2 separate regions of the Homo sapiens genome follow, and region 1 is linked to region 2. A link means that fine-mapping ties the variant in region 2 to the expression of a gene that starts in the linked region. Tissue or cell type: whole blood. Region 2 holds a variant in brackets; the other region holds the start of a gene. All regions are shown on one strand. Distances are from middle to middle.

Region 1 (8,187 bases), 73 kb before region 2:
AATTTGCAAATTGTTCTTTGCTCAATTAAACTCTGTTAAATTTAATTTGGCTAAAGTTTTTCTTTTAACAACAAAAAGATGAAGTAGATATACCTTCTGATTCTACGAAGAATCCATGAGGTACAGAAAGCGAGAGCAAGAGATAGGACATATTTCCGGATTCATATTAAGAGAGATCAGCAAGGAAACCCAGAAGCAGAGCGGCAGAGGGGACTCATGCCTTGTTTGGGGTTCAGGGAGGAGATCACCTTTTAGGGCACCCCTGCATTAGTAAAATTGCAACAGAACAGAAAAATCGACATGGTGGTATACCATGGTGGTGATACTTAAGAAGAAAAGATAACTGGGAATAGGTCCTCTGCTGTGGGATAGGGAAGGAATCCAAACATTGTCACTTGCTCCCAGAGGAAGAAGAGTATGGAAGAGAGATGAGGGCCAGTGGGCCTCCCATGGATCCCAGTGGGAGGGAAACTTGACCCCATGGCAGAGGCTGCTGGGTGGAGAACCAAGGCCCAGGGTGGATGGAGGAGGCAGCTGAGACCATGGGGAGCTGCTGCTCTAGCAAGAACCAAGACAAGGGAGTATAACTGGAGGGGACACAGTAGACCCCCAGCAGACCACCAGATCACCAATTATACTGACTGTGGTCTCAGAAGCTTCTGCCAGGGGGATGCCTAATGGACAGACAGGACATCATCTCAAAGGCCAGAGGGGACCAGAAGACAGTATGAGGAGCAGCAGGTTGACATCCTCACAGCAAAGAGGACAGGTAAGCTTTCCTCTCCATCCAGTTGCCATCTTATGGAAGACTACATCTTGTGAGAGGCACCTCTTGTGGAAAGTGCCTTCTAGTGAGTGGCTCTCCAAGACGAGAAACAGTACTAAGAGGGGCATGGAACTTAAACTTGATTGAGTCTTTATCCAGAAGACATAAACAAGTCTTTAAAAGACTATTTAAGCCAGCAGACATGGAAATATCTTCTATGCACAAATTTAGGGTTTTTATTTCCCCACCAATGGTGGGAATGAGGTTTTCAGGGCGCAATGATGATAGTTTCTTTCCCACATCTAAATGTAGTGTGCAAATATGTCACCTTTCAACTCATCAAATGCTTGGCAAATTATGCAGGATTGTGCTATTACATTGATTTTACATAAGCCTAGTTTGTTTAAGCTAAATTTTCATCAAATAAAAAACAATAGCAGAAAATAGAGCTACTGTGAACAGCCCAGAAACAGTGCCTTGGTCATTGGATAGTGGAACAATGAATGGATGAATAATGAGGAAATTAAGTACTTTTCAAAATTTTCCTTCATCTTTACTTTAAAACTCATTTGTTTTTCTGGCATCCTTTGATGAAAATAATTTTCATCAAATGGATGCCAGAGGAAAGTATCAAAAAGCCACAGTGCATGAAGGAAGATATTACTTGGTGGAAACTTGGAGGGCTTGGAAGGGTTTTTTGAGTCCCTTTCAAGGAGGATAGACATAAAGATGCAATGCTAACAATCGCAATAACTATCACCACATTTCACTTCTGGTAAACATTGAATATTTCTTTGGACATTTGGTGTGCTGATTAGATTTTAAGAGAGGTATTATGAAAATTATATAGTGTATTGGGTTAATTGGACTGAAGTGGGAAGATGGTATGAGCTCTCCTGGGAGTTATCAATAGGGCTGACCAGGGCTGGGTAGGGCCCTTATTTGTAATGATGTCTGTCCTTTATTGGGTGGACAGCAGTGCTGCAGTGAACGTGCTAGGAACAGAGAATGAGCTCACTTTGAGGCATAACTGTTCTTTCAGTTCTAGCTGACCTGGAAGATTGGCTACTGTTGATCCTTGTCCATGTTTAGCTCTAGAAAGGCATTTGAAGAACATCCAGTACAAAACCCTCATTTTATAGGTGAGGGATCTAAGCCCAATTCCAAGTCTCCCAGTTCATAAATTTTTTCTTTACTGTAGATTTTTCTGGATAAAGGTGACAACAGATCACACACACACACACACACACACACACACACAAAGATTATTGGTCCAGGGGAGAAAAGTGCAGGGACACTTTCAGGTATGGCTGAATTCAAATGCTCAACCTCTGTGGCCAGGAGGACATTTTCACCATCTCTCAGTTCCACCTTTTGCTATTTTATTTTGGCTTTTATATGATGTCAAAGATGGTTAACAGCATCTCCAGGCCCAGGTTCCACAGATTAGAAAATCCAGCGGGAAGAGAGCCTCTTTCTTGGTATCTCTGGAAAATGTAAAGGTTCCCCTGCCCTTGTTCCTTCCCATCTTTAAACTGATCACTGTGGTTAGGGGTGTATAGTTTTCTCATAAGCCAGGGCAGGGCCCCATGCCTGCCCTGGAGAGTAGGGTCGGTCCCACCATAATAACAGAGACTGTAAGGAGAAGAGAGGATCGTTTCTCAAGGGAAAATCAGGATGCTGTTACCAAACAAAGGAGAGAAAAGAGTCTGTTTCTATGACTACATCTTTCTGGGCTGTGTGGTCCAAACACACCTGTGACACCAGACATGTCCCCTACATTATTTTCCATTGAAAACGATGTTTATTTCCTTTTATACATGGTGAGAAATTGAGTTTCTTTGCATAGAGAATAGACTCCTTCAGAAATATTCATTCTGGAAGGTAATGTCAGGAAGGATCCTGGCAGGCAATGGAGAGATCACTCAAATTCAGGTATTCTGAGGAAAGTTTAGTAAAGAGATATTTACAAAGGATGGGCAGGGTACAAGGAAGCCACAAGGATGATGCGTGAACTGGGGATAAGAACATCTGGGCACCCTGAGGCCCCTGGCTCTGAGAGGGCAAGCAGAGGGGGTGGTTACCAAAGCTGGAGGCACAGAAGTCTGTCTGCAGACCCCCAGGCATAGCCAGCCTATGGCCAGGCATTAAAATGAGAACTAGGGAAAGAAACAAAAATCCATACCTGCTTCTCCTCCCTCCCTCCAACTTGCTGCAGGAATTCCCTATTGAATGAACCACCAGGAAGCCAGTGAGAAATCTCTTTGTTGTAGGTCCTAAGATCAGCCTCCCAGGGCACAACGGAAGAAGGACAAAAAGTGGGAGCAGAGAAACAAACAGGAAGTCAGTTTCTTATCTATTTTTACACTCTATTCATGGGCTCATTCAGGGAAATACCCATAAGATGTCTAAACACATGCCCTGGTCTGATTTCCAGTGGCATTGACTGCTAAACATGTATGTTAAAAATGGCCTGTGTAAACATCAAAATACATGAGACGGTGAACATATCTAACAGCAGTATCAGTGTGGTCCCTTGAGGCTTCCTCTTGATTTGGAGGCATGAGGTTTGTTTGAACTTTTGTTCTTTCATTTACAGGCTACGTGACCTTTAACAAATGAGATAACCTCTCAGAGACTGTGTCCTTGTCTTTAATAGGAGGATATTTCCCCTGCCCACCTAATGGTATCTGTTATTCAGTGCAAATGAAATATTGGATATAAAAGTATTTGAGAGTGATAAAGTACTAATGTTATATTGATCTTTTCAACCTTAAAATATGAGCATAAGAAATACAGATTAATATTTTTATGGGTATGATTTTTTGCAATGTTTATTTCAGAGTTCTACGTGGGGAAAAGAAAGAGAGATCAGACTGTTACTGTGTCTATGTAGAAAGAAGTAGACATAAGAGACTCCATTTTGTTCTGTACTAAGAGAAATTCTTCTGCCTTGAGATGCTGTTAATCTGTAACCCTAGCCCCAACCCTGTGTTTGCAGAGACATGTGCTGTGTTGACTCAAGGTTTAATGGATTTAGGGCTGTGCAGAATGTGCTTTGTTAAACAAGTGCTTGAAGGCAGTATGCTTGGTAAAAGTCATCGCCATTCTCTAATCTTGAGTACCCAGGGACACGATACACTGCGGAAGGCTGCAGGGACCTCTGCCCAGGAAAGCCAGGTATTGTCCAAGGTTTCTCCCCATGTGATAGCCTGAGATATGGCCTTGTGGGAAGGGAAAGACCTGACCGTCCCCCAGCCAGACACCCGTAAAGGGTCTGTGCTGAGGAGGATTAGTGAAAGAGGAAGGCCTCTTTGCAGTTGAGATAAGAGGAAGGCATCTGTCTCCTGCTTATCCCTGGGAATGAAATGTCTCAATGTCAAACCCGATTATACGTTCTATTTACTGAGATAGGAGGAAACCGCCTTATGGCTGGAGGTGAGATATGCTGGCGGCAATACTGCTCTTTAATGCACCGAGATGTTTGTGTACATGCACATCAAGGCACAGCACCTTTCCTTAAACTTATTTATGACACAGAGACCTTTGCTCACATGTTTTCCTGCTGACCCTCTCCCCACTGTTACCCTATTGTCCTGCCACATCCCCCTCTCCGAGATGGTAGAGATAGTGATCAATTAATACTGAGGAAACTCAAGAGACCAGGGCTGGCGCCCGTCCTCCGTATGCTGAGTGCCGGTCCCCTGGGCCCACTGTTCTTTCTCCATACTTTATCTCTGTGTCTTATTTCTTTTCTCAGTCTCTTGTCCCACCTGACGAAAAACACCCACAGGTGTGGAGGGGCTGGTCCCCTTCAGTTCTAAAGCCCACTTGGCTCATTCCACATGTGGCAGTATTTTTTTACCATGTGAACACCAAAATGAATTCGTGGCAAATGCACCTCCCGTTTATTGCAGGCTTGCATGAAGGAAATGATTTCCTATGATTCTGCTTACTGCTTAAAAAAATTAATCAAGTTTTCTGCCTGACAAGTAAGTAACTGTGTTTATTTTCTGTTCATGACTAGGCAAAAGCACATAACATCCCTATGTGTCCAGTGAGTTATGAAAGTTCTTTAAAAGCAGTGCATTAGCCATGGATCTTCCTGCTATCTCTCCCCTGCAGTTTGCTGAGAATGTTTTCCATAATAGAACCAGGCTTATCACAATTTATTCCTGCCTTACTGACTACTAGGTCATTGCCTAGAGTTCTGAACCCCGGGTTGGAAGCTGTTAAAATTTAATAAAAACTACTTTAGAGAAAATGGTCACTCTCCCTTCATCCTCTCTCACCTCCCTCTGGCTCCTTGACCCCCATCCCTCCCTGAAGATGCTGGTCGCTAAGGCTCTTTTAATAGACTTCCTTATTGTCCCAGGTTTCTGGGAATTCATCAGTGATAGCTGCCATGGGTATGTTGAGAGGATACTATATGCTGAGAACTCCACATCTGATATTTTACTTAATTTCCCCACAATATTATGAAGTAGATGTTATTTTCCCCATTGTACAATAAGAGATGGAAAGCTAGAGAGGCTAAAAGCAGAACAAGAATTTGAACCCAAATGCCTGTGACTGTAACCACCATACATATAGCCTACCTGTTTCCATGTTGTTCTAGCAGGATCCTTGTTTTCTTCCTTCTTACAGTAAAATCTGACTGATCACTGTTGAGTAACGGATCTTAATTAGGTCGAGATGCGGAAGGAGTTTGCTCCTGTAATTTCAGGAGGTCTTTGCATATACCTATTATTGCAAATAGATTTCGCTTTATTGGAAAAAGGCTATCAGTATTCCCTGGGGACTCTATTTTTACAGCTGAGACTGCTGCTCTCTATCAGTCACTATGAAGTAGAAATTCTGATTATGATATCACATAAGATTCAAGGCCACTAGTGATAAATGTTCAAGAGGAGGTGTGTTCAGCTTTGTGATACACTATTGTGATAAAAATATGGCACAGGATTTTAAAAATATGAAAATGTAAAAGGAATACAAATATGATAAATGATTATAAGTCTATGTATGGAATTTAATCTATTTTTCCTAAATGCTGACTGTAAGCGGTTTAGCCCAGTGATATAAACTGTGCCTGAGAAAGGTCCCAGTCAATTTCATGCTGTTCATGTGCCATTTATTTTTACTTTTTAAGTACATTGGGAAAATACATAAGAAAAAATGTACATTCATCTTTTTAATGATACTATAAAAGATGGTGAACAAGTTAATCGGAAGAAAAGAAAAACAATTCATCTAGACATTCTTGCAATGAATTTTTGCCAAATGCTTAATTTTTACTAGATGCTAGGAGAATTGGGAAGCCTTAAGTCTGACACAGGATCCAGAGACAAAAATTACAAAGTAGTGAGTGCTATGGTAAGAGTTAAGTAAGAAGGTTGGATAAGATGTCCACTACTAGCTCAATCTTGAAAGCGTCCAGGACACTTGCCTCTGAGACCTAAACGACTGAGTGGGCATTGATCAAGAGTGGGAGGTTGTTTCAGGGTCAGCACATGCAAAGGACAGGCTCCATTTTAGGAAAATGAAAGTAGTTCAGTGTTATTGAAGCTGATGGTGAGGGAGGAAGTGGCAGAAGATAAAGGCTGGAAAGAAACAAGTCAATAAGAAGCCACAAAAAAGTTGTAAGTAGATGAATGACATGATCCAATTTGTGCTTTAGGAAGATTACTTTTGTCTCAGTGTCCAATATAGGTGGAGGGAGGCAAAATGAGAAGCAGAGAGTTATTTGATGGTGGAAAGAGAGAGCTGTTCAAACAAACAGGCAAGATTCAGTGGAGACCTGAACTAGGCAGGTGGCATCTTGGGTTGCAAGAAATGGACAGGTACAAAAGATATTTAGAAGGACAAGAAGGTATTTTAGTTGGATGACGTACATTTCAAAGGAACAAGGAAGAAGAATGGTCTGGGAATAGTATTGGTGAGCCAGGAGTCTTCATTTGAGTGGGCTGCAGGGAAAGTTGTGTCCTCAGAAGATGCCACATTTCAGTTATGGTACAATGGGAGGGAACATTCACTGTGGCAGTGGAATCACCAGAGGGCCACAAGTGGATCAGATTGGGAAGTGGGATAATATTCCAGCCTGAATTAGATTGTACAATCCCAGGGAGCAGGAATGAGGAAGGAAAGGGAGTAGAATAGAGAAAAAGGGGGAGTAATATGAGGATGCATTATAGGTCTAACTGCTTCCAGGTATGACTGATTGCTCAATCCCATAGGACCATCTTCTAAGAAGTTGTAATAATTTAATCACAGAGAAAAGTGAAGAATTTAGCCACTGGCTGCAGCCTCCAATTGGTCAAAGGTTTGTCTCACAGAGCATGAACCTCCCTGCACCTCCATATAACACATATTTGAGTGCAACAGGGTTCTTATATAAGTATCATCAGGGTGGCCCCAGGGAAGGAGGTGAGAAGTTGCAATAATGTCAGGTTGCGCTTGCATGCAAGTGATCAGAATATACCCTAAGAGCAAGTTATCTCAGTGGCAGCTTGAATGAAATCGGTGAGCCAAAGCATATAAATTAGCACATAAAAGGTGCATAATACAGTCCACCTTCTGCACTATTCAGGGCCACTTTCCCCCATCATTATATCCAAATTGCATACTACAATATAGGCCCCCATTTTTGTGAGAATAAGTTGTCCTTATCTATTCTACAAGAGAGGAAGCACTCGTCCAATCTGTCACAAGGTCCCCTTCAAGGGAATGGTCCACCAGAGTCTGATTGAGGATAAGTAAGACAAACTTCTGTTCCATAGCTGAACCTGGATCTGAAGTCATAAGTTATATTTATCTCCAACCTCTTCCAGCAATTCTATATTTCCCTCACTATGGGCCAGCACATTAGCTATCTGTGTTGGTCTCCCGGTGGGATGACACAAACATTCATCGTTGAGAGGCTTGAACCTTTATTTGCCTTATCCTTTTTGGGCCATAGTTGTTGCAATACAATTACGCATCAGCTTTTGACAATACAATTATGTAAGTACAATACAAACTATGTACAAATCTGTTATCGCTGGACACAGGAGCACCAAGAGATACCCTTGTGAAACCCTTGGGTTCCAGATGTGTTTCTTCTTGTCCTCACTGGTAACAGCAACTCTAGCTATTCAGCAGAGTCAGGGGCTATTACTTTTAATGATGTGCTAACTATTTATTCCCTGCTGGCCCATAAGCATGAGGAGTTCAACTGATATTTTCAGCTTCAAATTCAGGGGACCCTTACATTTTATCTGGCAGAATTATTCTCTTTCCCATCCACAGTCACAATTAAGATTTCTAATCCAATAGAGGCTAAAGTTGCAAGATGGAAGATAGTAAACACAAATTCCGTAATCACTTGGTTCCCAGTTTTATATAATTGAGCTACTGGGGATTCAAAACCATATATTGGTCATTGG
Region 2 (8,187 bases):
TGCTACTTTGTCATGGCAGCCTAGCAAACTAAGACAAGGCATAACTCTCCAACATTTGTAAAGGAGTGTCAAATACGTCACTGTTGATCTTCACATTAACCCTGCAAGGTATATATTATTATGCGCATTTAAGGAAACTGAGGCTCATCAGATAAGTAACTTGCCCAAAATCACACATCTACAAGTAGCAGAAAGATACATAGAGAACTGGGAGCATACTGCACATATTTTTATCTGCCATTTTTAACTCAGTTGTTTTATCATGGACATTTCCCATATCACTGAAAATCAAAGTATGTCAGTTTAGGTTTGCTTATCTCAACTTTGAATAAGCTGCCTAGGAAATCTATGTAACAGAGGAACATCTTGAAAACTAACATTGGAAAAAATAAAAATGAAACATAACTTGTTAAAACCAGCAAGGAATTTAGTGATCACCCAAGAAGGCCAAACACTATGACAGGTGACAACAAGGCTATGGCACATCCTGGGTCCTAGAAAGGCTGTCCTAGTTCATGTGAATATTCTGGGAAGGACTTTCTCATCCTCCTTGACCCCAAGAACTATGGAGGGCTGAACAGGCAGGTTGATCCCTCTCTAGCTCTGGGTCTCATAGAGCAAAGAGGATGATGCTATTAGGGTTCACCTCACAGTGTATTAAAGGAGGGAAAGACTTAAAATGGTTTACAGTGAGGTTTGGGAAACATTAGCAATGATTTCTGTGATTTAGAAGATAAAAATAAAAAATTCTATTCTTGCTTTTTATATATAGATTATCCAGTTTATTCTTGATAACCATTTTCAGAATGACATGGATCATCACTGCAAGACCGTAGGTGTACATCCAGTAGAACTCGGGGAAGAACCAATATCACGGAAGAAGAAAGAGAAGAAAATTGATGTATTCATTACCTCTAGAAGCTTACTATCCAGTTGGGGATATGACAAATCTTAAAAACAAAAATTGGAAAGAAAAAAGACTTGCTTAAAGTAGCCACCGATTGTTTTTAAAAGACCTAATAAGAATTTGTGTGAATATACTTTATAAATTTTGAAGCACTGTAACAGGTTCTTAAACTACTACATGTTTTAAAAATACTGATTTTTTTCTGAGTTTCAGGCACTATTTTGTAATTATTAGTAACTAGTGCATGTAAGTTAGCATAGCAGAGTTGAAACTGAGTTAGTAGTTGCCTAGGAGACCTAAAATAAAGAAGCAACTCACAAGAGTTGGAGGTTGCCCTCGCTCACACTGCCACAAACATTTTTAAACACCACCACGGCTTATGGACAAAGTAGACACGGCACAGGTTTAAACTCAGGGCTGGGGCTGGAATCCCAGCTCCGCTACTTAGTAGTTATTTGACCTAAGATAAGTCATGAAAATGCCATTGATGATAATAGACCTTGAAGCGCTCTTAAAAGATTTCATGATAATGCATGTAGAGTACCTGGCCCACAGTCAGGGCACTATAAATGGAAAATCTTATTACTCTTAGGAGCTATTATTAGTTTTCTAGGGCTGCCATAACAAAGTTCCACAAACTGGGTGGCTTAAAAGAAATTTATTTCTCACAGTTCTGGAGGCTAGCCATGCAAAATCAAGATGTCAGCAGCGTTGGTTCTTTCCGAGGGCTCCCAGGGAGCATCTGTTCCATGCCTCTCCTAGCTTCTGGTGATGGCTGGCAATTCTTGGTGTTCCCTGCTTGTAGAAGCATCACTCCAGTTTCTGTCTTCTTCTTCATATGGTGTTCTCCTTGTGCCTCTGTGTCTTCACATAGCCATCTTCCCTCTGTTTCTCTCCTTTTCTTATAAGGACACCATTTGTATGGATTAAAGGTCCACCCTACTCCAGTATGGCTTCATTTTAACTAATTATATCTGCAATAACCCTATTTCCAAATAAGATCACATTCTATAGTACTGGGAGGCTGGACTTAAACATATCTTTATGGTGGCAGGGGCCACAAGTCAACCCATAACAACAACTTAAGTTCAGCTTCTAGTCCCACAAACCAGCCAAGTGACCTTGAATGAAGCACTGCCTCCGATACTCAGTATACTCAGTATCGTCATTTATAAATTAAGACAATAGTATCTCTTTATAGAATCTCCCATAGAGTCAAAAAAGACTATAAGTGAGAGTGCTTTCTAAACTATAGAGCATTATATAATTTAATTATAAGTATTTCTATAAAGATTACAGAGTATTTTGATGCCCATTTTATTCTTAGCTTAGCTCCTATAACCCCTCTGAATCGTCCATTGCCCCACAGTTCCTTGCTTGCCTTCAACAAACTCAAATAGGACATTTTTTAAATGATTTGTCCTCTTAACTCTAAGCGAACTAAATTATGCCTGTGTATTATTGGGCTGGGGCAATTGAGTTACCTGACCATTTCCATGAAGTCACAGTGCTAACCTAATGCAATGTGACAGCTTTTTCCTGTAGCACATTCTTAAAATTTGATTATTCTGAGTAAGAAAATATTCATTGAGAGGCTCACCAGGATTGCACCAGGCCTGTTTAGTATCCATATGTAAAGGTTAAGCTCCAGGAGTGAGAGCCAGAGGGCAGCTGAGCTGCCATCAGTCATCTTTCTCAGGCTCCAAATTGAGGAGAATTAATGTGTACCTGCTTCTGTAACCTTCCGCTGCAGAATTAGACCATGAATAATAAAATCCACGATTAGTCATAAATTGGAAGAGATGGGTTTTTTGTACTGCAATAAAACAATTGAAAAGTAAACAGGCCTTTTATACTTTCATAAAACAGGCACATTAGAGCATCCGAAATAGCCTTCACTTGGGTTCTTCATTACACTGATAATGACTGCATATTGCCAGTATGTGCCCTCTTAGTGAATAATTTTTTAAGGGCAAAAAACAGAGTACATAGGTATTTGGTTCATTCTCATTAAGTTTTGTACTGAAAAATGTAACCTCTTTTTTCTATTTTCAGATGATGCATATCATAAATTATTACTCACCCCATGTTCCCACCCTCGAGAGACCTCCAAACAATCACCATGCCACAGTGAACATTCAGTAACAAAAATTCAGCCAGGGTTTTCACCAGCATGAATGGCAGTGATTCCAAT[C/T]AGGAAAACAGAAAGAGGAGAGTTCAGAGCCACCTAGAATGGCTCTTGCAAGATACGAAATCAAGGCAGCAGCAACAGGGCTGAACATTCCTCATCCCTAACTCTCCCTTCACCAGTAGGAAACCCAGGATAACTGCAATCACCGCAGGCCCATCTGGCCTGAAGTTCTACTACTAGTAGCCCTCCATGGGACCTTCTTAAGGAAGCATGTCAACTCAGGTAAGGGATGTAAGGGGATGGATGACCCTTTGAGGCCAAAGTTGGAGCAAAAAACACCAGATGTTCCTGTGCACTGCTCCTAAGAGATGGTTCTGAAGACCAGTTCGGGGAGAGGTCAAAATACTGGACAGAATCTCAGCAACATGGAACCTCAAACTAAGTGACAGTCACAGACAACTCTTCCCCAAAGAAAATAAGCACAGACATGGTTTGTGGTAAGCAGAATTATAAAGATGAATTCCCATCTCCCTGTCAGATTACCAGTATGGTAAATTACCAGATTACCTGGTTATTTATTCAAACACTAATACAGTTATTGCCTTGATGGAAACATACAGATACAATTAAAATCCCAAGTACCAAATAAATTGACCTTAAGACAAAGACTAAGTAAATCACATGAGCCCTCTACAAGCAGAGAGTTTTTCTCCAGCTGGTAGCAGAAGCCAGAGATTTGAAGCATAGGAAGTATTCAACACATTATTGCTGGCCTGAAAATGGAAGGGGCCACATAACGAGGGAAACCGGTGGCCTCTAGAAGCAGGGAGCAGTCCCCTGCTGACAGACAGCAAGCCAAGACCTCAGTTCTACAATTGCAAGACACTCAATTCTGCTAAGGACAAAAATGAGCTTGGAAGTGAACTCTGAGCTTCAGGTGAGAACACGGCCAAACAACACCTTGATTTCAGCTTAAACAAAGAATGCAGCCACTCCATGCCAGAATTCTGACCTGTAGAAATTTGAGCTAATAAATAGATGTTTTAATAGCTTCATCGATACATACTTCACTTACTGTAAAATTCATTATTTTAAAGTGTACAATTCAGTGGTTTTCAGTATATCCACAAAATGCAACCATCACCACTATCTGATTTCAGGATTTCTTTTTCTTTTCTTTTTTTTTTAATCCCATAAAGAAAATCCAAACCAATTAGCAGTCTTTCTTCCTTCTCCCTGCTCCCAGCCCGTGAAAACCACTAAATTACTGTCTGTTTCCATGGATATGCCTATTCTGGATATTTTATATAAACCAAATCATGCAATATGTGGCCTTTTGTATTTGGCTGCTTGCACTTAGCATAATGTTTTCAAAATCCATCCATGTTGTAGCATTTCTCAGTATTTCATTCCTTGTATAGCTGAATAATATACCACACAAATATATCACATTTTGTTTGTCCATTCATCATTTAATAGATGCTTAGGTTTTTCCATTTTTTAAGTATTATAAATAATATGGCTTTTAATATTTGTGTACAAGTTTTTCTGTAGGCACAGGTTTTCATTTCTCATGGATATAAACCTAGAGTGAAATTGCTGGGTCAAATAGTGGCTCTATGTTTAACAATTTGAGGAACAGCCAAACTGTTTTTTGAAATGGCTGCATTATTTTACAATTCTGTCAACAATGTATGAGGGTTCCAATTTCCTGACGTCCTTGTCAACACTTGTTAATGTCTGCTTTTGTATTTTAGGCACCCTAGTGGGTATGTCATAATATTGCATTGTGATTTTGATTTGCATTTCCCTAATGGCTAATGTTGTACATCTTTTATATGTGCTTATTGGCCATTTGTTTATGTTCTTTAGAGAAATGTTCTGTTCAAACACTTTGCCCAAGTTTTAACTGGACTAATTATCTTTTTATTGTTGCGCTGCAAGAATTCTACATGTATTCTGGAGTAGTTGTTTATCCGAAATACAATTTGCAAATATTTTCTGTCACTGTATAGGTTGTCTTTTTACTTTCTTGATAGTGTTCTTTGAAGCAAAAAAGTTTTTTTATTTTCTTGAACCCCAGTTGATCTATTGTTTCTTCTTTTTCTGCTTGTACTTTCGGTTTTATAGCTAAGAAGCCATTGCTTAAATCAAGTTCACAAAGATTTACACCTCTGTTTTCTTCTAAGAGATTTACAGCTTTCTTTTTTTTTTTTTTTTTCTTTTTTGCTAGAGAAAGGATCTCACTGTTGGCCAGGCTGTTCTCAAACTCCTGGGCTCAAATGATCCTCTTGCCTCAGCCTCCCAAAGTGCTGGGATTACAGGCATGAGCCACCACGCCCATCCAAGTTTTACAGCTTTAGATGTTGCATTTAGATCTTTGATCCATTTTGACTTAATTTTTATATATGGTGTGAGATAGAGGTTCGGCTTTATTCTTTTGCCTGTAGATATCCAGTTGTTTCAAGCCACAGTGAGATACCACTTCACACCTACTAGGATGGCTACAATAAAAAAAAGACAATAACAAATATTGATGAGAATTTGGAGAAATTTGAATCCTTCAATTTGCTAATAAGATGTAAATTAGAGGAACCACTTTAGAAAACATTTTGGCAGCTCCTCAAAATGGGTATATACCTGTAATTTTATGTTTAAAACATAACTGTAATTTTATGTTTAAAATTACTGTTTGACTCAACAATTCCACTCCTAGGTATATACCAAAGAGAAATGTAAACAAAGGTTTACACAGAAACTTGTATAAAAATGTTAATAGCAGCATTATTTATAATAGCCAAAAAGTGGAAACAAGCTAAATATTCTTCGACTGACGAATGGATAAAGAAAATGTGGTATATCTATATGATGGACTATCACTCTACCATTCAAAGAAACAAAATACTGAATCATGCTACAGTATGGATGAATTTAAAAACATTATGCTAAGTGAAAGAAGCCAGACACAAAAGTCCACATATTGTGTGATTCCATTTATATGAAATGTTCAGAAAAGGCAAATCTATAGAGACAGAAAGCAAATTCGTGATTGCCTAGCGTGGGGTGCAGAAAAAAGTGGGGATTGGAGGGTGATAACTCAGGGGTGCAGGGTTTCTTTGGGGGGTGATGAAAATGTTCTAAAATTAATTATGGTGATTATGGTTACACAGCGTTATGAATATACTAAAGACCATTAAATTATATACTTAAAATGATTGTATTATGTGGTATATGAATTATAATTCAATAGAATAGTAGTAAAAAAACAGGTGATGGAAAGCATTTGCCTGCAGTCTATACTTTTTCTACTCCTGGTATAGGAGAACAAGAACAAAGAAGTCACTCAGATTGTTTTAATTGCCTTTGTACTAAGGAGAAAAATAAGACCTATGTCAGGCACATGGGTAGATGGTTCCTCATAAAGGCTTAAGACAAAACCCAAGTAAATAAAAATGAGTTTGTATTTTTCTGATGAACTTTTTTGTATATGTTTTATGTGAACTCATGTGAGGCAGAGGCAGAGAGTCACTATACATGATTTCTAGATACTGGCCATAAAACTTTCTTTCTCATCATTGCTAATAGGAGAATCAGAGAGCATATAGTTACAACTAGTTTTTTAATTCAATCTGGCAATCTCTGTAGTTTAATTGAAGTTTTTTATAAAATTTATACTTAAGGCCAGATGAGGTGGCTCACGCTTGTAATTCCAGTACTTTGGGAGGCCGAGGTGGGTGGATCACGAGGTCAGGAGTTCGAGACCAGCCTGGCCAAGACAGTGAAACCCCGTCTCTACTAAAAATACAAAACTTAGCTGGGTGTGGTGGCAGGCAGCTACGCGGGAGGCTGAGGCAGGAGAATCACTTGAACCTGGGAGGCGGAGGTGGCAGTGAGCCAAAATTGCACCACTGCACTCCAGCTTGGTCAACAAAGCCAGACTCTCTCTCAAAAAAAAAAATTATAGTTAATGTAATTTTTAACATTCTTTTGTTTTAAACCACATATTTTCATCTAGTTATTTATCCTTTCTATTATTCTTGTGTTTTAAACCCCCATATTTCCACCTAGTTTTTGTTTAATCTCTATTTTTTCTTCCATTTGCCTCTTTTTCTGCCTTCATTTGGATGATTATTTTATATTTGATATTAGCTTATTAATGACTATGCTTTCTATTATTTTAAGTGGTTGTTCTAGGTCTTAAAATACATATATTTGACTTAACATAGTCTATCTCCAAATATTACTTTAACCGCTTCACGTATATTGTAACAACTTTACAAGGGTATAATTCCATTTTCTTTCTCCTGTCCTTTATCCTAATATGTATACTTCTATAGGTGTTATAAATTCCACAACACATTGTTATTATTGTTGTTTCAAGCAGTGAATTTTTTAAAAAAAATTTAAAATTAGGACAAAAGTCTGTTATATTTAACCAGTATATTTACCTGTTCCAACATTCTTCAATTCTTTGCATAGAGCCAAATTTCTTCCATTATTTTCCTCCTGCCAAAGACCTTTTCATAGCCTTCTTACATTGGAAGCCTGCTGGTAATGAATTCTTCAAGCTCCACTTTTATATTAAAAAATTCCTTTTTAAAATCATTTTTATATTATTACATGTTATTGAATTATCATTTAACAGTATTTTGTTTGTTTTTGTTTTGTTCCCTCCACCCCTTTCTCATGAAGTAAAAATGTTTCTCAATTTTCTTTTGATTTACATAGTTTCTGATTTAAAGTCTGGCATCAGTCTTATCTGGTTTGTAATGTTTATTTTTCTCTGGCGGCTTATAAAATTCCCTTTATCACTGATTTTCATCAATTTGATTACAACATGGTGGTTCTTTTATACTTATTCTGTTTGGGATTCATTTATCTTTTTGGATTGCTTTATAAATTTCATCTCTTACGGAAAATGTTCATTTACTATTTCATCTCTTTTTTTGTTTTGTTTTTTCCACCCTGGGACTCCAATGACATATATTTTAGACCATTTAGTGCTTTTATACAGAAAAACGATGCTCTGTTTATTCTGTTTTAAGTATTTTTTTCTCATTATGCTTCTTTTTGGATAATTCCTATTGCTATACCTTTGGGTTCACTTATTTTTTATGGTATCTAATCTGCTGTTAATCTCATCCAGAGT

Evidence for each region. PIP is the estimated chance that this variant, and not a neighbour inherited with it, causes the effect. A credible set is the group of variants that fine-mapping cannot tell apart.
Region 1: HISLA starts here. The variant in region 2 is the best candidate, but not a certain one, in a credible set for the expression of HISLA in whole blood (TOPMed, PIP 0.86).

Annotation. Positions count from the first base shown.
Region 1 is chr14:88,020,724-88,028,910 of GRCh38, forward strand. It overlaps HISLA (HIF1A stabilizing long noncoding RNA), which reads left to right and starts at 3,827. Exons shown (of 4, transcript NR_046094.1): 1 at 3,827-3,946; 2 at 4,684-4,758. It overlaps LINC01147 (long intergenic non-protein coding RNA 1147), which reads right to left and starts at 5,589. Exons shown (of 3, transcript NR_110121.1): 1 at 5,365-5,589; 2 at 2,952-3,053.
Region 2 is chr14:88,093,537-88,101,723 of GRCh38, forward strand. No RefSeq gene overlaps it. Among named protein-coding and RNA genes, the nearest start is that of KCNK10-AS1, 63 kb to the right of the region's middle. The variant C/T (reference allele first, on the strand shown) is at 3,102.